2 separate regions of the Homo sapiens genome follow, and region 2 is linked to region 1. The links come from fine-mapping of genetic effects on gene expression. Tissue or cell type: whole blood. Region 1 holds a variant in brackets; the other region holds the start of a gene. All regions are shown on one strand. Distances are from middle to middle.

Evidence for each region.
Region 2: it holds the start of PCBD1, and the variant in region 1 is fine-mapped to the expression of PCBD1 in whole blood (INTERVAL, PIP 0.91).

Annotation. Positions count from the first base shown.
Region 1 is chr10:70,857,271-70,868,989 of GRCh38, reverse strand. It overlaps SGPL1 (sphingosine-1-phosphate lyase 1), which reads right to left. Exons shown (of 15, transcript NM_003901.4): 6 at 11,300-11,376; 7 at 9,491-9,619; 8 at 557-645. Among named protein-coding and RNA genes, the nearest start is that of PCBD1, 25 kb to the left of the region's middle. The variant T/C (reference allele first, on the strand shown) is at 4,793.
Region 2 is chr10:70,881,608-70,893,326 of GRCh38, reverse strand. It overlaps PCBD1 (pterin-4 alpha-carbinolamine dehydratase 1), which reads left to right and starts at 4,762. Exons shown (of 4, transcript NM_000281.4): 1 at 4,762-4,796; 2 at 7,398-7,529; 3 at 8,095-8,175; 4 at 9,279-9,817. The coding sequence starts at 4,794. The coding sequence ends at 9,377. RefSeq lists silencers at 4,646-4,895, 5,226-5,505.

The sequences.
Region 1 (11,719 bases):
ACTGTACAAGGGGACAGTCTAGGAAAAAATAATGTAACTAAACATCAAATTTATGTCCAAGGAAGGCAATGTGGGTAAATCTCAAAAAGATATTTTTATTCTTCCTCCCAGAAAACAGCCCTCACACTAAAGTTTTCCCAGAGAGTACCCTGAGGCAGCCTATAATATTAAGTAACTTTCTAAGGTAAGCAGAACTAAAGTACCTAGAGAGGTTTCTTTAGGCTCCAAATAATTTGCAAATATCACAGGATTCAAAGATGTAGTCCTCAAACTCTCACTTTTGGAAAAAGGATCTTATTTTTGCTTGTAGTATATACTATGCATGATCTGGGGGTGGGGCGGGATGGGAATGATCTTTAAAAATAACTGGCTGATCCATTTAGAATTTTACTGAATGTAAAAGGATAAGGGCAGAGGGGCTAGGACAGGGGGAAAGGGGACCAGAATTACCAGAGGAAGAGAAGCAGCAGGAAAATGGATTATCTGCTTTAGTTTCATAAAGCTGTACTCCAGACAGACAAATCCAAAAGGGGACAAAACAGCCACACATACATACATTTCTGGAGTTTTGATCCCCTTCTCAAAGGCCAGATCCCGATATGCTTTGCAGGCCATCAGTATGCTTTCTGTTCCCCCAGAAGTCACCTATAATAAAGAAGAGATGCCATCTGTTGGGGGAGTCAGGAATGCCCCGGCTCTTCATGCCCTGATCTTGACAATGTTTGATACAGAAACAGATAAGGTCTTGGATGCATGCTGCAAGGCAGACACTGCCATGTCTTCCAGAAGGAAAATTTGGCTTTATTGGCTAAGCCTAATTTTGGCTCAGGTGAAGAATGAAAGCTACTAAATAATGAGCAGAAACTCAGCACTGCCTAGACAAATGCACACTTGGCCAGATCCCACCTATTCACAATCCATTTACATTTCTGTATTAATTTTTCAATTTTCAGATAAGATAGGGCATTTTATGCCATTCAAAAATATCAGAATTTTAATTTAAATTTTCAATACCTGTTAAAGAATGTGAAATTGTGATTACAATTCTAGTAAACTGTGCAATACACTAAAAAGAGACATTCAGATTTAACAAAGTAAACTGCTGATTTTGACAAGTTTGAAAGACAGAGAAAAGCAGAAGTTTCTACTTGATGGAAGTTTGTTGCCTTATCTGAAATAAAACAAAAATCCTAATTTTTTTTAAGTGAAGTGAAATGTTTTCCTAAAGTTTGGCCTAGCCCCTCTGATAAACACATTTCTTTACCAGAGTTCAAACAAAAAGACGTAGGGGTCTTTTTATTCATCTTATTTCCCTCACTGGACTATAAATTCATGAAAGTAGGGACCAGTCTGTTCATGACAAATTCCTAGCACCTGACATAGTGGCTGACACCTAACAAACCCTCAATCCATTTTTTTTTTTTTTTTGAGACAGAGTCTCACTCTGTTGCCCAGGCTGGAGTGCCATGGCATGATCTCGGCTCACTGCAGCCTTTGCCTCCTGGTTCAAGCGATTCTCCTGCCATAGTTACCCGAGTAGCTCGGATTACAGGCGCCCACCACCATGCCCACCTAATTTTTGTATTTTTAGCAGAGACGGGGTTTCACCATGTTGGCCAGGCTGGTCTCAAGCTCCTGGCCTCAAGTGATCTGCCCACCTCAGCCTCCCAAAGAGCTGGGATTACAGGTGTGAGCCACTGCACCTGGCCTTCACATTTCTTAATGCCTGACTTGACTCTCAGTAAACCTTGACCAACACAGGCATGTCATAGCCACCTGGCTATTTTTTTAAAAAATAATATATGAGAATGAATCATTCCAAAACAAACAAAAAGCCACAATACTAAACTAGTTGGACAACTTCTTAGACTTACCATCTCTGAAGATTCATACAATCTTTGAAAGGTTTTTTCAATTTACAGGTGAGAAAACTGAGCCCTTGAGGAATTAAAGTGTTTCACTCAATGTCATACATTAGCATCTGTTGATAAGAAGTAAAACTTTCTACGTTTTCATATTTAGTGTAGCTTAATACAAGATGGAATCAGAGAAAGTGACCACTGAACTTTGCTAAAATAATATCCACACATAGAACAAAAATACCATTGGATACAAAATCCCTGTGGCCAGGAGTTATATGGAAGATGAACTGAGAAAAGTCATTTTTTGACTCAGGAAGTCTTTATGAAACATGTGACCATCACCAAAAAATAATGCACCCAACTTGGGCATGGGACACTTGTAGGTCACTACATTTCTACGCTGCAGAAGACAAAGTGCTTACAGCTGAGGTCAGCTCTGCAAATCAGCAGCATGTCCTGTGGTTTAGCATAAAACCTCAGAATGTCACAAGAGTCGTCAAGCCAGCTGTGAAGAGTCGGGGAGGGACCAGCAAAGTCCAAGTCACCAGTGCAACAATCTCTTCGTAAGGTCCAGTAATGACCTAAGCAATAATATTTCCAAATTCCTAGTCACCTGCTTCATGTGTCCTACTTTTAGTCCAATAACTAGTCAAAACATCATTGTTATGCAAACACCAGTGGACTTTTGACTGTAAAAGTAGGAATACCTAAATTCTACTTTTTTCTTTTTTGTTTTTTTTTGAGATGGGGTCTCAATCTTTCACCTAGACTGGAGTGCCATGGCGTGATCTCGGCTCACTGCAATCTCCACCTCCCAGGCCTAAGAGATCCTCCCACCTCATCCCCCAAAGTAGCTGGGACTACAGGCACACCCCACCATGCCTGGCTAACTTTTGTATTTTTTGTAGAGACAGGGTTTCACCTAGTTGCCCAGGCTGGTCTCGAATTCCTGGGCTCGAGCGATCCACTTGCCTCAGCCTCCCATGGTGCTGGGACTACAGGCGTGAGTCACTGTGCCTGGGCCTAAGTTCTACTTTTAATATGTATTTTTGATTCTGTGTTTTAAAATGCTATTACTCTCCCACTTCTTTCTACCTCCTATACCCAAAGAGAAACAGGAATTTTAACTGTGAAGTAAGAAAATGGAGGCCTCAGTAACTATTTGTTATGTCATTCAACTTCTTTCAACATGTATAAAAACTCTCACTTTAACATATGATATGTATTTCAGAAAACAAGAGAACAACATCTACTTGGAAAATTTTCTTTCAGATGCTGTTTGGATCTGATAACATTAGCACAAGCCAAGAAGAATGTTTCACATGGTAACCTAATTTCTTTTAGTATGTGAAGTTACCTCTATCATTGTAACTGAGACAAATAAAGTTAATAGAAGGAAAGATAGTTTAAGGCTGAAGAACAAAGAATGAGAGAGCTTACAACTCTTAACTCTTAGCTAGGAATAACCTAAAGACTGCCCAGCCATTTGGTTTTATCTTCTGGCTTCCCACCTCTGAACAGTGAACTCTTTCTTCACTAGAAGCAGCTCATCCAGAGAGAGAAGTAAGAAGCTAAGGGAGGAGTGGGGGAGACAGAGTGGGAGAGGGAAAAAGACAATACCAGTGCTGATTAGTTATTTTATAAAAGTCTAAATATTAGAAGAGCCTGGGAATCAGACTCTATCCTTCTTCTGATCCCTCACACGTGCTGAAGATCAAAATAATAGAGATATGGTTTAATTGCAGCAATGCAAAAAACCCCTAGGCCTGGACTTCAGGAGTAAGATGGGAAGAAAAAAAAAAAGGGTGAGTGCAGGGAGAGAAAAGAGTCAAAATCTACAATAACAACAACCAAACAAGGAAAGAGAGATAATCTAGGCAATAAACTTCAAATATTGGCAATCAAAAAAAAAAAAGAAACAGTGAAACAGCAGAGAGCAGAAGTAAGCAAAACACTAGTTTCTAATCAGCCCTTGAAACTGTACCGCAAAGTCAGCAAAATCCTGAGAATTTTCCTTTATACCCCCAAATCTGCAGAGGCAAGCTGAGGGGGTTTCCTTATTTTCTTCTTCTTCTCATGAGTGAGTGGTAAACATGGCTGCTAGGGAGAAATGAGCAAAATGAAGAGAGAACATCAGGATTGGCTCTTTAGAGTGAAGACTTCAGTGAATTAAATAATCAGAGCTCAAAGGGTATATTATCTCTTCCAAATAAGAGAGTGAACTCTGATAGGTAACTTTGAAGAGAATCTCAGAATAGACCTGGTTATTCTAATACAGATAGAACAAAGCTTTGGCTGAGCTTTGTCCCCAGCCAAATGGTCTCAGACAGGAAGCACCCACAGTGCATAAGAACAATGTCTGGAGAATGCCACCCCAAGATGAGAGAAAATGGCAAGGAAACTATGCAAACAAACTAAAAGGCAGGGGAAAAGGTAGTATGTAGCATGCAAAATAAAAACCCAACACAGAAGGAAACAAGCTAAGGGATGAAGGAAACCCCTTATAACTTTCTCACTATAGGAAAATATCATAAGAACATGAATTTAAGAAAACAAAGAGTTCAAAACCTAGACCATGAAACAAAAAGAATGAGCTACAGACCTAAAAAAACAAAGCCAGTAGCATCCATACAGAACTAACAAAGACATTAGGAACAGCAAGGAATAAAATAAACATTGCCAAGAATAAAAATGCTGACTTCAAGGAAAAGGTCTGAAATAAGTTTATTGAACCCAGATTTAAAAAAGACAGAGATTGAAAGATCAATGCCACTCCAAATGTGGAGAACTGTGTTCAATCTGGCCAGAGGCAACCAAAAGTCATACAGAGAATGACTGCGATGGTTGGAAGTCTGTGAAATCATATGAAAAGCGGAGTAACCCAGAAAAATGTGGGGCAGAGAAGATTCAGGGAGAAAGGGGCTTTCAAA[T/C]AGACGAAGGTCTGTAACATGGAAAAAACAATTATGGAACTTCTATTTCTAGCAATATTATATACCTTGAGCAACCTTCCTAACTGAAATAACTAAAAAACTTGATAAAACATCAAAAAAAAAAAATTTAAACCTATCACTAACCTAACATAAAGAAACTTGCTAAACCCCCAAACAAAGCAAAATCAAGAATCCTGCAAGATAAGTGAGTGGCAAAACTAGCTTTCACCCTGAGGTGGCACCAGACCCTTCAGACTTCAAACTCCTACACTGACAGATGAGCAAAGGATGGACCAGAAGATACATTAGAGACTGCCCAAGATAAGGAGTCCAACAGGAGATGGCTGGAAAAAGACCACACTCTACAGTGTACAAGAAATAAATCCCACTACTGCAAAAGAGAAAAGAAAAACTGTTTTTCTCAACCCTGATGTTCAAGTAAAGAAAAATAGCAATCTTTCAAGAATGTGTAACAAGGAAGCCTTTATGTGAGTTTGTGGTCAGAATTCACACTACCTCTGTGGTACAAAATGACAAGCTAAGGATTTGACTTAATTTGGTTCCAGTGTGGTGGCAATCCCCAGCAACTCAAAAAGGTATGACAAATCTTCTCTGGAAGAAGAGAACTTCCAGACTTAACTTCAATCTAGGCCTCAAAGAATCCCTAGGTTCCCAGAAAAATGAGTGGCTCATAAAAAAATAAATAAATAAAATAAAATCACAAATATAAGGAAACAAGGAACCATGACTGAAGCCAGCAGAATCAGGTAAGGCTCATGGATATTGGAATTATCAGACACAGAATACAACATATTTATGTGTAATATATTTAAGTAAACAAAAGTTAAGCCAAGGAAAAGGACTATAAAAAACAACCAAGCAGATTAAAAAAAAAAAAAAAAAAAAAAGACGGCCAAGCGTGGTGGCTTACGCCTGTAATCCCAGCACTTTGAGAAGCCAAGGCAGGCAGATCACTTCAGCTTGGGAGTTCAACACCAGCCTGGGCAACATGGTGAAACCCCATCTCTACTAAAAATACAAAAATTAGCGAGGCATGGTGGTGCATGCCTGTAGTCCCAGCTACTCAAGGGGGCTGAGGTGGGAGGGTCGCTTGAGCCCAGAGAGGTCAAGGCTGCAGTGAGCTGAGATGGCACCACTACACTCTGGCCTGAGCAACAGAGTGACACCCTGTCTCAAAAAATAATAATAAAATAAAAGGAGAACTACAAAACAGAATTCTTTAGAATGAAATTAGAGTAAATAAAATTGAAAAGCCCAATGGGCTTCTACTGTGTCCGGAATTGGTGGGTTCTTGGTCTCACTGACTTCAAGAATGAAGCCGCGGACCCTCGCGGTGAGTGTTACAGCTCTTAAGGTAGCACGTCTGGAGTTTGTTCCTTCTGATGTTCGGATGTGTCCGGAATTTCTTCCTTCTGGTGCGTTCGTGGTCTCGCTGGCTCAGGAGTGAAGCTGCAGACCTTCACAGTGAGTGTTACAGCTCTTAAGGCAGCGCGTCCGGAGTTGTTCGTTCCTCCCGGTGGGCTCGTGGTCTCACTGGCTTCAGGAGTGAAGCTGCAGACCTTCGTGGTGAGTGTCACAGCTCATAAAAGCAGCGTGGACCCAAAGAGTGAGCAGTAGCAAGATTTATTGCAAAGAGCGAAAGAACAAAGCTTCCACAGTGTGGAAGGGGACCCGAGCGTGTTGCCACTGCTTGCTCTGGCAGCCTGCTTTTATTCTCTTATCTGGCCCCACCCACATCCTGCTGATTGGTAGAGCCAAGTGGTCTGTTTTGTCAGGGCGCTGATTGGTGCGTTTACAATCCCTGAGCTAGACACAAAGGTTCTCCACGTCCCCATCAGATTAGTTAGATACAGAGTATCCACACAAAGGTTCTCCAAGCCCCCACCAGAGCAGCGAGATACAGAGTGTCGATTGGTGCACTCAGAAACCCTGAGCTAGACACAGGGTGCTGATTGGTGTGTTTACAAACCTTGAGCTAGATACAGAGTGCCGATTGGTGTATTTACAATCCCTGAGCTACACATAAAGGTTCTCCAAGGCTCCACCAGACTCAGGAGCCCAGCTGGCTTCACCCAGTGGATCCCGCACCGGGGCTGCGGGTGGAGCTGCCTGCAGGACTGGAGCTGCCTGCCAGTCCTGCGCTGTGCGCCTGCACTCCTCAGCCCTTGGGTGGTCGATGGGACTGGGCGCCGTGGAGCAGGGAGTGGCGCTCGTCAAGGAGGCTGGGGCCACACAGGAGCCCACGGAGGGGGTGGGAGGCTCAGGCATGGCGGGCTGCAGGTCCCGAGCCCTGCCCCAGGGGAAGGCAGCTAAGGCCCAGCGAGAAATCGAGCGCAGTGCCGGTAGGCCGGCACTACTGGGGGACCTAGAACCCCCTCCGCAGCTGCTGGCTGGGTGCTAAGCCCCTCATTGCCCGGGGCCGGCAGGGCCGGCCGGCTGCTCCGAGTGCGGGGCCCGCCAAGCCCATGCTCACCGGGAACTCTAGCTGGCCCGCAAGCGCTGCGCGCAGCCCTGGTTCCGGCTCACGCCTCTCCCTCCACACCTCCCTGCAAGCTGAGGGAGCCGGCTCCGACCTTGGCCAGCCCAGAAAGGGGCTCCTACAGTGCAGCGGTGGGCTGAAGAGCTCCTCAAGTGCCGCCAAAGTGGGAGCCCAGGCAGAGGAGGCGCCGAGAGCGAGCGAGGGCTGTGAGGACTGCCAGCACGCTGTGACCTCTCACTACTTATCACCAGGCTCCAGCAATTTTCAATTTACAGCCAATCTTTCATCTACCCCCAACTGCCCCAGCCATCGTTGCTATTGAGTATCAGTTGTCCTAACAGTTATGCCTTTGTAGGTAATCTATTTTCTCTGGCTGCTCTCAAACACCAGTTAGATGTGTGTTAGCCTTCTCATCCTATCCTTTGCATCTCTTAGCCTCTCTTTCATACCTTCTATTTCTTTGTCTCTCTGGACTGCATTCTGGTTAACTTTTTTTTTTTAATCTGTCTTGTTCCATAAATGTGATTTTGGAACTATGTAATTATTTTACCTAGTTTTAAATGAACCAGGGCTCCTTGGATAAATGGCTGATTGAAGGCCTGGAGCAGGAAATGGACAAAGTGAACCTGAACCTGGAATATTTCGTCAAAAAAAAAAAAAAAAGGAAAGAAAGAGAAAAAAGGCTTTCAAAGATTACTTGGGTCATGTAAATGGACCTAGGAGCCAATATGATGTTTCCACTGGCCAAAGATGGATGAGGCAATTTGTACATCAATCTGAATAAGAGCTACAATGGATTGAGGCACACACAGCATTCCACAATTTATTCATCTGTGTCCTGTGGATAGGCATTTGAATTACTTCCAGTTTTTAGCTATCATGAATAACATTGCTATGAATATTAATGTCCATATATCCTGATATATATGTGTACTAATTTTTCTAGAGTATGTCCTAGTAGCAGAATTTCTGGGTCATAAGATATATGTATCTTCAAATTTACCAGATAAGGCCAAACTGTTCTGTGGCTATTCACTCTGGCCTCTTACAAGTTCTTCAAGAGTCTAATGGCATAGGAGAATATACTGTAAGTACATTATCATCTTCCCTCTGAAAGTCACCCTGTTCACCTCAGTACTCTAAGGGAAACTGCTGCTGTATTATGGGTGGTTCTGTTTTTAACAGTTTCAGTATTTTGCTTTGAAAATGAATGCCAGGCATATCACCTTTATTACTACTAATATTTGAACATGATGATTTTCATGGCGCCAACATATTAGAAAAACAAAACAAAAACAATGCTTCCTGGAAAAAAAAAAAGAAACTAAATTAGGTGCTCTTCGAATGGGCCCTTCAATAATTAAATCTGCAGTCTTTATAATGACTGCAAATATGATGAGTATCTGATAGGATTAGCACCTCTAGGACACCATTGCAGCATATTGAGTTAAATCTATCTATCCTACATAACCTGAGATTTCGTTTTTTCTAAAGACAACAGATCTAAACAGAAGTTTATCTATCATAGTTTACGAAAACTAACAACCATCTACTTGAAAGAACAGGTAAAACAAAGAATCCTCATGTGTTTCTTTAAATATAATGATGTCCTCCCCCTTTCTTTATGCCTAATAGCAACTAAATGAGGTTCAGTTTACAGCAAAATAATAAATTAAACTTTGGCTCAGGTAAAACCAGAAGTACACTAAAAACACTGCTGGATGGAACAACAAAAGTATACACAGATAAATAGGGGAATGGTAGGTATGCAGGTGGGGGATGAGGGAAGAAGCGGGTAGGGAGGGAAAGAGTGTAGAGAGCAGATATGGCAACATATTTACATTTAGTGAATCTAAGGTGTTCTTTAAGCCATCCTAGCAACTCAATGTAGGTTCAAAGTTTTTCAAAATAAAAAGGTGAAAATAAAAATATCTAGAAGAATATATACCAAAATGTTGACATTGTCTAGGTTACAAAATTACAAGTAACATTTAAAACTGCAGTTAATTAGGATCTTTCTACAATGATCAAATATTCCTTGTGTAGTAAAATGACCTTTCTACAATGATCAAATATTTCTTGTGTAGTAAAATATTTTTAATATTTTTTATTTTTTAAAATATAATTAATATTTATTAAAAACTCTTCTATTTTAACCTAAAAAATAAGGCTATTGGATGCCCCTTGCATATACTTACACATCCACACGAATCTGGTCCCCCATTGAACAGGGAACAAGCTATCCTCACGATTTCTGCCTCTATCTTGCGTAGTCCTGGGAAGATATCTGGATGCAGGGGGTTACTCCATGCAAAATCTCCATAAGCCTGCAAAAAAATGCAAGCAGATGTGAAATCAAAACTATTACACTATACAGGACAAAGAATCATGCACTAAACAACAGTTTCTAAGTATTAGGCACAACAATATAAACTGGAAAAAAAGATAAGATATATTCCTCAACCAAAAGATCAAAACATAGCAGAGGAGACAGACATGTAAATAAATAATTTTACAATGTGATGAGGAAAGAAGTATAAATATGGTTAAAAGCGCAGACTATAACACCAAACCGACCCAGGAGGAAGTCTAAGCTTTGCCTATTACTTTCAGCTGTGTAGGTCACATAATCTAAGGTTGTTTCTTCATACGCAGAAGTTGTTATGGTAGCTATCTTCTAGTGTTCTAGCAATAATTAAATAACATAATGCATGTGAAGCACTTAGTAGAGTGTCTGGCACAAAGCAGCTGTTGTTATCGACTGCAATATCAGGTGTGTGTACAGAGTGCTAAGGGACCCTGAAGAGGGAACAACTAACATCCTGAGTGATCTAGAGGTGTCTGCTGAGTGGAACTTTGAGAGATGAGTAGGAATCATCATTTGGAACAAGAGGAATGATGGAAGGGAAGGAAAACAACGTAAAAGCATGACACATTTAGTAAAGAGAAAAGGCAGGATTAGTGTTTATGTGGGAAATGAAGAGAAGTAGTTAAGAAAAAATAAGTGGGAGCTGGCTCATGAAGAAACTTGTATTCTCTGCTGCATAAGAACCTGAGTTTCATCCTGTAGATAATGGGAAGCTACTGAAAGATTTTAAGCACAGAAGATCAGAGCATTACACCAACTTATGCAAAACCTGCCATATTTATTTAGTAAGGGACAGTTTCATATTTATAATAATCAAACACAAAGACCTTAGAGATCATCAGTACAACCCCAATTTTATATGATGAAGTGGAGTTTCAAAAATAAATATGAGGGCCGAGTGCAGTGGTTCACAGCTGTAATCTCAACACTTTCAGAGGCCAAGGCAGGAGGATCACTTGAGGCTGGGAGTTGAAGACCAACCTGGGCAACAGAGTGAGACCCCATCTCCAACAAAAAAATACAAAAATTAGCTGGGTGTCATGATGCACGCCTGTAGTCCCAACTACTCAGGAGGCTGAGGTGGGAGGATCACTTGAGCCAAAGAGGTCAAGGCTGAAGTGAGCCATGATTACACCACTCCACTCCAGCCTGTGTGACAGAGTGAGACTTTGTCTGTAAAAATAATAAAATAAAATAAAAATAAATTTGATTAGAAATGGAAGAAGCTAAGAATGAGAATTATTTGAAGTATACATGAGACCACTGCTCATCTTGGGTCACATGATTTGAGAAAATTATGAAAGAGTTTCCCTATCTTATCTCTTCTTATCAAACAAAATCTGTCTCACCACAAAAATCTCATCTGACAGGACTACCTTCCCTAGTAATCTGCCTTCTAGACAGGACATCTGCAAAGACTGAAAACATAAATAACATTTTACTATTTTACAGACTGAAGATGTCTTTGATAATATTATACATATTCGCCTATGTTTGGGTGAAGAGAAACTTTTATGGTTTTATTGTACCAATAAGCTTTCCTTAAGTAATTTTTCTAATTACAAAAGTAAGGGAAAAAAAGGAGGTCATGTAAACTGGCACAGACCTCACAGGCTTCCCTCAAGAACTGGACACTCACCTTCACAAGGAGCTCAGTGAGCTTCTCCTCCCCACTGTACACTGTTCCAGAGGCTCTCCCCTCTTGCCAGAAGGCGTCTGCAGAGAAAGGTAAGGTCACTGGTCAGTAAGCAAGAATCTCTGGGAAGACAGGTTCTGATAAAGAAGAAACAGGAAGAAACTCCTCTGGATACAAAAGAAAAAAATGTTGAGTGGAAACCCAACAGCATTCTTATAGCAAATCAAGAAAAAAGTTCAATAGAGTTAGCACAATAAAATAAAGATGAAAAATCATTATTATCAGCAATGTGAAAAAGATATTAATAGCATTTAGCTACAATAAAGGCAATCTGATAATAATGTTGTCCTCATCCTCAACTGCCTTCTAACAGCAGGAACATTTGCCTTTGTCTATACTTATTTTTTGTTCTCTATATGGCTT
Region 2 (11,719 bases), 24 kb before region 1:
CTTACCCACTTTAATGGAGGCTGCCCCTTCCTCCAAGCACTGCCCAAGTGAGCCAGACTGCACATCCTGCCTCTCCTTGGAGGGACCTGCCCCCTTGGAATTCAGGATACTTGGTTGCCCTGTGAGCTCACCTCCCTGGTGAGCTCAAGAAAAGTGATGACTTTGTAGTGCATGCAGTCTTTTCTCATTGTTAAGTATGATAGCAAGGCTTTCTGCCTCCTGGATGGAAGGTGAATACTTCTTGCTGTCCTTAAGTCTTTCCTTCCACCGTCTCTCACCACCCATTCTCAACCTAACGCTACACATTTTAGGTTGCTTTTATAGCAACATTCCACTTTCAGGCACCAAATTTTGTTCCTGCCATTTGTTCCTATTGCTGCAGAACAAATCATCATGCTGAGTGGCTTAAAACAAAAATTATGATTTCTCATGCTTCCACGGGTTGACTGGTCTCACTTGGGGCCTCACGTGGGATTGAAGTCAGATGTCTCCTGGGGCTGAAGTCATCTGAAGGTTTGGCAGGTCTGAGCATCCAAGAGTCTCACTCACGTGGCTGGAGAATGATTAACAGTTCCCAGAGTTTCTTTGGCTTAGTCTTAGAAGTTATAGCTGGATGTGGTGGCTCACACCTGGAATCCCACACTTGGGAGGCCAAGGCCCAACATTTGAGCCCAAGAATTTGAGACCAGCCTGGCAACATAGAAATGTCCTGTCTCTGTAAAAAATTTAAAACATTATCCAGGCATGGTGACTACCTGGGGGAGCTGAGGCAGGAGGATCACTTGAGCCCAGGAGGTCAAGGCTGCAATGAGCTATGATTGCACCACTGCACTCCAGCCTGGGCGACAGAGCAAGACACTGTATCAAAACAAAGTCACATGGTGACATTTCTGCCATATTTGACTGGTCATACTGGGCCATCCCAGATTCAACATGGGTGAGAACTATGCAGGGTGTGAATATTGGGAGTCATGGTTCATTGGGGGCTATCTTTGGAGACTAACATCCTGCCTAACACTACATACCAAAAGGGACCTTTCACATTTAGGTCTTAAATCTATCTAACTATAAAGTTAACAAAAGAAAAGGGAGTATATTTTTGTAGCAGGGTGGGGAGAGGACTTATCAAATAAATTTTCAAATGCACAAAATTATAAGGCAGAGGGAAAAAAGATAAATCTTATTACACCAAAATATAAGATTTCTGCCCACAGACATCATGGATCTCATGCAAGAAGTCAGTATACAGATGGCAGAATGAGAGGAGATATTTGCAATATCAAAACTGACAAGCAATTAATGTCTAGATTTTATATAAACACCCACAAACCAACTAAAAAAAGAGAGCACTAAAAATTCTCAAAAATTGGCAAAGGATATTAAAAAGCAATTCACAAATAGTAACCCCCAAATGGTAACAAGCATATGAAGAGGTTCTCAAAATCATTAGTCATCAGAAAACAATGTAGAGTAAAACAATTGAAAGCGGCAGGAGGCAGACAATTTCCTAGGCAGATGGGGGTGGGTCCCCAGTGAAACCCCACCTTCAAGCCAAAAACAGCCTGGACTGCTGGTTTGGGATGAAACCCCTCAAACCAGGGTGAGAACTTCTGTTCCTGTTTGCCCACCCTTTCCTGATTGGTTCTTTCTGAATAATGCTTTTTAACCAATCAAATGTTGCCTTTTCTAATACTACCTACAGCCCGCCCCTCCCCAATCCTGTGCCTATAAAACCCCCTAGACTCAGCCACACTGAGATAGACAACCCCACCTTCTCAATCCCTCTCCACTGAGAGCTGTTTCATCGTCAATAAAATTCTCCATCCTCATCACCCTTCAACTGTCAGCATGACCTCATTCTTCTTGGATGCAGAACAAGAGCTCAGGACCCACCAAATGTGGGCACCCACAAAGGCTGTAACGCTGGCCCTCTACCCTCACTGGTGGAGGGCAGCTGCCCCACAGAACAGAAGCTGCAGCAGGGCCAAGCTGGTCCAGGAGCCACGGGCCAGAGTGGAGAAAGGGGCCGCCTGAGCTGCCAACATGCCGCTGTCCATCAGGCTGCAGATGGTGGAGATAAAAGAGCTATTTAGCACACTGTAACACCCCTCTCTGGGGCTTCAGGCACCCCTGCCTGGGTGCTGCCACAGTCTCCTTGGGGTGACACACCTGATCTGGCTGTGGGCCCCACACAGAGCCTGTTCCTGTGTCATGGCTCAGTGCAGCTGGCTGGACCCTGCATTCACTCGGTCACATGCTCCCTCCCGCCAGGGGCTGAGCATACAGTCGCAGTGGCCTTGTGAGCCATGGGCTGTAACACAAGCCAGATGGGGCCTGGCAAGCTGAGTAGATAAGGCACTCCCTGCTGCAACCTCAGCAAAGGGGTCAAGAAAAATCCTGCATCACAACAAGCTCTCATTTTATAGCTATTAGCCTGACAAAAAAATAAAAAGCTGGCTAATGGGAAGTGTGAGTATGTATGTGTAAGATGCATATGGAAATAGTACCCCCTCACACCATGCAGGAGAGAATGAGGACTGGTGTCCCCATCCTGGACATCATCTAGAACTATTTTGAGATACACACCCATGGGGGGAATTGCTGGATTTATAGGGTATGGATATACTTAAGTTGCCTAAGAAACTGCCCACAGCCCAGGGAGCAATTAGAGATGTTCACTGCAGCAGCATTGTTGTTTAACTCTGTGTACGTATGTGTTTGTGTGCCCACATGCTCACGGGCTTGGGAGGTGGTGGTAGCAGCAGAAAGTTGAAGGGAACCTGAGTGTCCATCACTGATAGAACAAGAAACCCATGGCAGATTCTCATTACAAAATACTAGGCTGCAGTTAAAAGCTACAGATTGAATATACATATAGCAACATGGGTAGATCTTAATTTTCCACTAAATACTCTGTTTTGTAAGAAACAGACTGAGAAATGTAATATATTTACATAATACCATTTACATAAATTTAAAAATACACATAGACGAAACAACACCACACATTTTGCAAGAACCTGTGCAAACAAAAATACACATTAACACATTAGAGAGGCTGCTATGGGCGGTGGTGGGGGGCGGGGAATAAAAGTGGAGCACAAGAATAAAAGTTAATAGAAAAATGTGAAATGTGAGAGGACTTTTCTAATCTGACTCTAAGACTTATTATAAAGCTATAATAATCAAGACAAGGTAGTGTTCTGTCATGACAGACAAACAGATCAATGGAACAGAAGAAAGGGCTCAGAAATAAACCCACATGTATACAGTCAATTGATATTTTACAAAGGTGCAAAGACAACTCAGTGGAGAAAGGAATAACTGAGTCGCCATGTGCAAAAGTGCATCTGGATCTATAACTTGAAGCATATAAAAATATTTACTCAAAGTGGATCACAGACTAAATGTAAAACCAAAAGCTATAAAACATAGGAGAAAACTTTTGATCTTGGGTTAGGCCAAGATTTCTATGTGTACAACATCAAAATAGAAATCCATAAAAGAAACATTTGATATATTGGATTTCATCAAAATTAAGAACGTTTGCTCTTTGAAAGGCACCATAAGATAATGCAAAGAAAATATTTGCAAATCACTGCCTGATCATGTCCTTATATCCAGAATAAAACACCCTCAAAACTCGATAAGAAGACAACCCAATTTCTTTTTTAATGGGCAGGAAATTCAAACATGCTATTCAATAAAAAAAACTTATCCTTAGCAAATAAGTACATGAAAAGACATTCAATACAATTACTAATCAAGGAAACTCAAAACCACAATGAGATACTGCTACACACCAATTAAAATTTAAAAGGCTGACTATATCAAGTGTTGGTGAGGACAGAGAACTGCAACCTTCATACACTGCTGCTAGGAATATAAAATGATACAACCATTTTGCAAAACAGTATGGCAGTTTCCTAATAAGTTATAAAAGTCCACCTACCACATGACCCAGGCATTCCATTCCTAAGTGTTTACTCAAGGAAAATTAAAACATACGTACTTTCGAAGATTTGTGCACCATATTCGCAGCAGCTTTATTTGTAATAGCCAAAAGGTAAACAACGCAAATGTCCAATAGTGAATCGCTAAACAAATTGTAGTCTATCTGTACAATGCAATACTATAAAATAAATTTTACTTAGCCATAAAAGGAAGAAACCATTGATATAGGCAACAACATGGCTGAACCCCAAAACAGTTATCCTGCCTAGTATATACTCTATGGTCCATTTACATAAAATTCTAGAAAATGCAAACTAATTTATAGTGACCTAAAGTACATCAGTGCTTGCCTGGCCAGGTGGTTTCGGGAGGAAGGGGTTACCAAAGGGCAAGGGAAAACTTGCAGGGATGATGATATGTTCATAATGTTGATCTCGGTGATGGTCTCACGAGGGAAACATTAAAATTTATCAAATTGTACACGTTGAATATGTGCAATTTATTGCATGTCAATTATATCCAAATAAGAGATTTTTATAAAGAAAAAAATAGGTATTCTGGCGCCCAGGGCCACCCAGCTGTAAGCGGCGGGGTGGGATTCCAACCCAGAAGCGGGCATTTGGAGCCCTCATGCTTCACCCTAGCTCCCTGAAACAAGCACGGAGGATGGCTCTGAGCAGCGAGGAAAGTGCTGGAAGCAAGCAGGCCGAGCGCGTCCCTGGCTGGGGACGTTAATCATTACCGGAGGGCGGCCCGAGCGCGGCCCCGCCCCGGGACGGCAGCCTGCGCGCCCGGCCGCCGCCTGCCCTCTCCGCTGGCCACCTGCTGCCGCCCGCGCCATGGTGAGTCCAGGGGTGCGCGGCCGCGATCGGGGCAGCGGGGCCGGGGCAGCCGCGGGCGAGGTGGGAGCGGGAAGGGGCGGGGGAAAGTCTTTTCGAGTCCCCTGCGGAGCCGCCGGGGTCCGAAAGTGGGGTCTCTGCCCGGCTCTCTGTCGCTGGCGGCGGGGAGGGGAAGCTGAAGCCCTGAGAGGGGCGGTGGCGGGTTCGAATCCCACCCAGTTGGGAGGCCAGGCCTGCCCTGACCCCGGCCAGTGCTTGTTCCGGGACCCTTCCGGGGGCGGGGCCTACGACCTTCCTGGGCCGGGGAAGACAGTCGTGGAGGAGTCCACGGATCTCGTCCCCTTGGTGGCCCGATTCTGCTTTATACTGGGGTGGGAGCGAGAGGGAGGCTGAGTTTGCGCGCTCGTGTGCGTGCCTGTCCGCTGCCCCTTCCCGCTGGCACTCTGGGTACGGGGTCTGCCTGGGACTCACGCTCTGCGCCGGTATGCTGGCCCCAGAGCCACTCCCCGCGCCGGCTTGAGGCCCGTGCCAGGCCACGGGGGCTTGGTGGCGCTGGAGCAGCCCTCCTCCCGTGAGCTTCCCCCACCCACCCCCGGGGCGGGGGCGGGGGCGGGGCCCTTGCTCTGCTGTAAGCTCGCGAGCTTCATCAGACCATTTCTGGTCCACAGGCCTTCGGAGCAGGCAAGACTGGGAGGGCCTTTTGATAGGAGAGGGACTTGGGGGAGGGAGGATGAGTGGGGCTGTTTGTGAGGGGCGCTGAGGTCCCAGAGATGCAGGCTTGGGAAATCGGTAACCACTCCCCACACCTCGCCAGAGGAGGCAAACGGGGCAGCGTCCCCCTCTCTGTCTCCAGAGCCGGCACCTGGAAGGTTTGTCAGTTCAGCCGCAGGCTGTGCGACCTGGGGGGTTCCAGAAGGCTCTACCGAGAAAGGGAAGCCTCCTAAGAGCTCACCTGGACTCACCCACCCCTTTAAGAGCCAAGGAAGTAAACAGTGGGCTCTGATGCTTTGGCTGACTTCTGGTTGTCTAGATACACGGACCAGGCGGTCAGCCACGGGGAGAAGGCCAGCTCTGGAGTAGAGACCTACCTACTGGGCAGATGATGCAAATCGCTGCTGCCATTCAATCCCTATAGTCATCCAGAGCCGAGGGGAAGAGAGGGGCCAAGCTACATCAGTCCAGAGAGAGCTCACGTTTTCAGGAGGGAAAACAGCAGGGAAAAAAGACGGACTTAGGAAAGCACTGCGATGCTTCAGCTACCCCAAATGCTACCAGGCCCATCACAAGCCTGCTTGCCTTAGGAAGTTTTTTTTTTGTAATGCAGATGACATTTGCTTTATAGCAGTGGAGTTTCCTAAAGTGTCCCATTGGCACCTCATGATGATCTGTGGAGGTGGAGGTTCTGCCAAGAGAGGTACAGCCACCTGGCTGGTAAATGGTGAAAGCGGGTCTCAAAACTCCTGCCAATCAACACATGGTGTCCAGTCTGCAGGCTGCCTCATAAAAGCTAAATCAACCTCCCTCACATTCCCTCCCCACCCCTAAGGGTATCTTTTCAATTCAGCACTCTATTTCTGCCCTGGGGTGGTGCTACTCTAGAAGCCTAGGTTCTGGGATCTGTTAAGCTCCTAGACCTGGATCCTCCTAGGATGAAACTGACCCTTGCTTCCTTGCTTTCTCTGAGGTTCCACTCATGGCCTGAATTGTGCCAATTTGGGCTGCCTTGAGGGCACTTCGCACATTAGGTAAATAGGATGGGGCACTAGGTTTGCCAGCTGCCTTTGGCCAAGTTCCTTCCACTTTGGCCTGAGCTTCCCAACCAGCCAGAAAAGCAGACGGAAAACCAGAGAAACCTAGCCCTGGCGGCTCAGGACCAGAGGCTGCCTGGGAGCATGACTGAGGACCTACTAGAGGTAGTGCCAACGGCGGTCAGCTGCAGTGTGGCTAAGAATGGGATGGACACTTATTTTAAATGTAGCTCCTTCGTCCAGCCCCAGCAATGCTGACACACAGACAACACTGCGCCATCACTGGCTAGGGGTGGGCGGGAAAGAACAGCAGACAAGTCGTTTCCCCTCTCTAGGCCTGTTTCCTCTTCAATACACGTGAAAGTTACGGTAGGGACGTGGGGTGCATATGATGAAGTACATAATAGGAAAAGGAAGGGGGGAGAGTCATGGGTACTCTTCCTGAGAGGTTGTGGAGTAACATATTTGCATCTGGGATTTATTTTGCTTTTACGCCCTCACTGATGTAATAATCTCATGGAGGGAAGGTCCGTAAGGCTTTGAGGGCAGGGTGGGGGAAGAGTGCTTCTCTGTCCCCGTCATATGAATTACATTGCTTTTGTGATTTCCCTTGTGTGTGTGTGGAGTGTTAAAACCCAAGACCTGAGGGCCTATCGGCAGACGAGCCTGGACCCCACCTCCTGGGCAGGGTGCCACCCTTGAGGCCTCCCAGCCTATTGCTCAAAGACCTGCTGCCCTTTGGTCACCCACGTCCAAAGCAGCCAGTGGAAGCTAAGTTCCCCTAAAGGTTGGAGCCCCTCTGTTTTGACCTATAAAGAGAAATGCCCTTGGGCCTCTGTTTTTTTCCCTCTTCTAGGCTGGCAAAGCACACAGGCTGAGCGCTGAGGAGAGGGACCAGCTGCTGCCAAACCTGAGGGCTGTGGGGTGGAATGAGCTGGAAGGCCGTGATGCCATCTTCAAGCAGTTTCATTTCAAAGACTTCAACAGGGTATGGCACCAGGGTGGGACAGAGTTTTCTGAGACGGGCTGATGGGGTCACCTTACAAAGCATGTTCTCTCCCTTCACGTCTTGTTAGCCAAGACTCTCAGACACCACACTCATCCAGTTATTTGGGCACTGTGCCAGTGGGGAAATTAATTTTCCTGTCTAACTCAGAAAGTATCATCTTTGGGGATTGGAGAGCCATAGGAGGATGTGTCTTGGGCTCTCCCTTCCTGGAACTTTTAGCAGCAGTCTTCTGAGGAGATAGTTCAAGTGGAAACCATGCACATCTGAAGACATTTGAACAGACGGCCAAGACTGGCCAGGCCAAAAGCCTGTTGTGGTGTTTCCACCTTGTTGACATCCTAAATAGCAAGACTTTCTTCCTACTGCAAGGACAATCTCTAACTCAAGCCTGAGAACCAGTGACAGGATGTCAAGGGGGAAATGATTATAGAGGAGTCTCCTGGGGGGAAGCTAATTCATCCTCCTGCGTCTAGGCCTTGAATTGGTGATGTCCAGAAGTCCTTTCTCTTAGAACACTAACCTGGCTCTCACTCCACTTAAATAGGCCTTTGGGTTCATGACAAGAGTGGCCCTGCAGGCTGAGAAACTGGACCACCATCCTGAATGGTTTAACGTGTACAACAAGGTGAGTGATGCTGTGTGCCTCTGTTGTGCTCTGCCCCCATCCAAATACTGCGAACTCTGACACATTCTGAAGGCTTTTGGACTTAACAATGAGCCTTCCTGACCCATAGGTCATCCACTCATCTCATTTCCAATCTCACTGAGATTGCACATGCCTAGAATCAACATAAATACCCCTGGGAAAAAAAAATCAGTCTTACTATAAAGAAATGCAAATTAAAAGATGCATGAGATAGTTGTGGTTAAAGTAGACATTTAAGTAGACATTAAGAAGGCAAAACCCAAGAAAGGAAAGGCTGTGGGAATCAGGCATACTTATTCAGTGTTCATAGCTCTAAATGGCTTTAATCTTGCTGGAGGTATGGAAGAATGAAAAAGTAATAAACTTGAACTAAGAATACACACATATTTGGGAGGCCGAGGTGGGCAGATCACGAGGTCAGGAGATCAAGACCCTCCTGGCTAACATGGTGAAACCCTGTCTCTACTAAAAACACAAAAAAATTAGGCGGGCGCGGTGGTGGACGCCTGTAGTCCCAGCTACTGGGGAGGCTGAGGCAGGAGAATGGTGGGAACCCGGGAGGCGGAGCTTGCAGTGAGCAGAGATTGAGCCACTGCACTCCAGCCTGGGAGACAGAGCAAGACTCCGTCTCAAAAAAAAAAAAAAAAAAAAATACAGACACATAGCCAACCTATCAAATTATTTGCTTAATGAATAGAAACAGTCATTAAATGTCTACCATGTGCCAAAAGCTCTGCTGGTCTCTGTTTATAAAAACAGTAAGGGTGGAAGAGGTCGTCTATGAATGGATAGTGTTTAGGAGTTGGCATTGGTTTTTGGTTTTGTCTTTAGCTTTTAGGTTGCTCTTGACATTCAGATATTAAGCTTTTATTCTATAGCTGAAGTCATGATTATTTTTGAGAGACAGCAAAGGGGAGATGTAGAAGATGTTGTTACAGACATGTCAGGAAGGAGTCCCCAGGAGAGATCGTACTGGCCAGCTGCTATTCTGGAGCTCCTAGCAGGGCTGAGCCCAGCAGCTAGTGACTCCCTCCTGTTCTTAAGTGAAGTCAGTGGAAGCAGAATTTCTGGTTTCATTTCAGGTCCACATCACGCTGAGCACCCATGAGTGTGCCGGCCTTTCAGAACGGGACATAAACCTGGCCAGCTTCATCGAACAAGTAGCAGTGTCCATGACATAGACCCTGCCCTTCCTCTTTGAATTCTTCCGGGGGAAGGGGTGACTGAACTGGGAGTCCAGGGAGGGAGCTGAGGAGCCCTTACCCTCCCACCACTCCCCTCCCAAGACCCAGCCGCCGCCGTTGAGGGCTGAGTCCTTGCTGTGGGATGTGCCAGTGTCCCCACCAACACCAGGAATTTAGACCTTTTCCCTGCACCACTCTCTTCATCCTGGGGGCTCTGTTACACTAATTTGAATAAACTCTCCCCTTTCTTTGCAACTTCCCAGCAACAATAATGATTTTCTTGCCAGGCCGTCTCTTGCTCCCTAATTCATTTCCCAGGAAGCTGTGATACAGGGTGAAATAAAGTCTTGTCTTAGAAACCAGGACCCTAAACCCCACACTATGTAATAGAAACACATGTGTTTTTATGTCTCAAATAAAACTATTATATCACTTGGTCTCAGGCTCTAGAAACTTCTTTTCCACAGGTCAATCCAAATTGGAGTCAATAGGCATTTAAATGAAAGCACTTCCTCTGTGCTAGGCACTTCCTCTGTTCAAGGTACTGGAAAATGACAGGGACCAGACCACCTTGCCTTCAGATTCATTATCATCTAGGGGATACCATTTGATTATCATCAAACAGGAACACAATTAACTATTACCAATTACCAATTAACTAGTACTAATTAACTATTACTAGAGTGAATTAATGCTAGGTGGCAGGATAAGAAATGAGCTAAAGGGAACGCAAGTGATTAATGGTGAAAAGGGCAAATCTGGAGGCTTTGAGTTATGCCTTGAAGACCTGGGTAGGATTCTTGGGAGGCAGAGATGGCTGAGAGAACACCATGAACACAGATAAGGGTGTGAAGGGCACAGGTATTATATGCATTGTGGAACCTATGTCTAGAAAGGCAGTCTGGGGCCATATTACAGGTTGAACATCCCTAATTTGAAAATTGGAAATCCAAAATCTGAAACTTTTTGAATGCCAACATGATGCCCAAAGGAAATACTCATTGGATCATTTTAGATTTCTGATTTTCAGATTAGAGATGCTCAACTTGTCAGTATAATGCAAATATTCCAAAATCCAAAATCTGAAACACTTCTGGTCTCACACCTTTCAGATAAGGGATACTCAACCTATATTTTCTTCCTGGCTGTGATGGCTAATGTTAGGTGTCAACTTGATTGGGCCATGGGGTGCCCAGGCATTTGGTCAAACATTCCGGGTGTGTCTGTGAGGGTGTTTCTGAATGAGGATAACATTTGAATCAGTAGACTGAGTAAAGCCGACTGTCTTCCCTAACATGGGTGGCCTCATTCAACCAGGTGAAGGCCTGTACAGAAAAAAAGGGCTAAAAAGGGCTGACCCTCTTCCAAATAAAAGGGAAGTCCTCCTGCCTGACTGCCTTGAGGTGGGACATTGGTCTTTTCCTGCTTTCGGACTTAAACTGAAACATCCACTCTCCTTAGGTCTCAAGGCTACAAGCCTCCGGTGTGCAACAATACCATCTGCTTTCCTGGTTCTCCAGCTTGCCAACTACAGATCTTGGGACTTGTCAGCCTCCATAATCACATGAGCCAATTCCTTATAAGAAATCTCTTTGTGTGTATTGGTTCTGTTTCTCTGGAGAATCATAATACACAGGCCTATCATATCAGATATGGCAGATCCCAAATCCTGATGGTCTCTTCAGTTTCTTAAAATCTTAGCAAAGTTCTTAGGGCTTGCCTGGTTTACTCCACAAGAGAGAAGACACAGGCAGCTTAGGACCTGGCAGGCTATTTATTACTGGAGCAGTTAAGAGATGGTTTGCACAGTCAGTTCCCCAGCCAGGAACTCTCTAGGACAGAATATTCCCACGCTGTCATGAAGAAGGGGGCACTAAGAGCAGCCTCATCTCTACCCCCACGAGAATGCCACACAAATTTTACCTCACATATGTCACTATGCAGAGACTGGGAAGCCTTCTTCCTAATAGTTCTCACCTGTGTCTCCTAACTCAAGTACTAAGCTGACTTGTAAATGCCGGGGTCACTTGGAACAGGAATCTAGCCATGTCACAACTCAGTCTGAATGAGTTGGTCCCCCAGCAAAGGCCAGGAAAGGGGCAGAGGCTGGAGGTTGAGAAATAAGCGTATTGTTCACAAGAGGGATTAGCAGGACCCCGTTCCTAGCATATATGCTAGTAAAGGATTATCAATACCTATATTGATGGCAAACGAGATTCAGACAGTGGTCTCCCATCTGCTCCACTTCTGACTTAAAATTTTCCAAGTGTGCTTTGATCTGATGACTGGAGGACTGAAGGACAGAAGACGCCAGATGCGGAGGTATGGACTATGCTGTT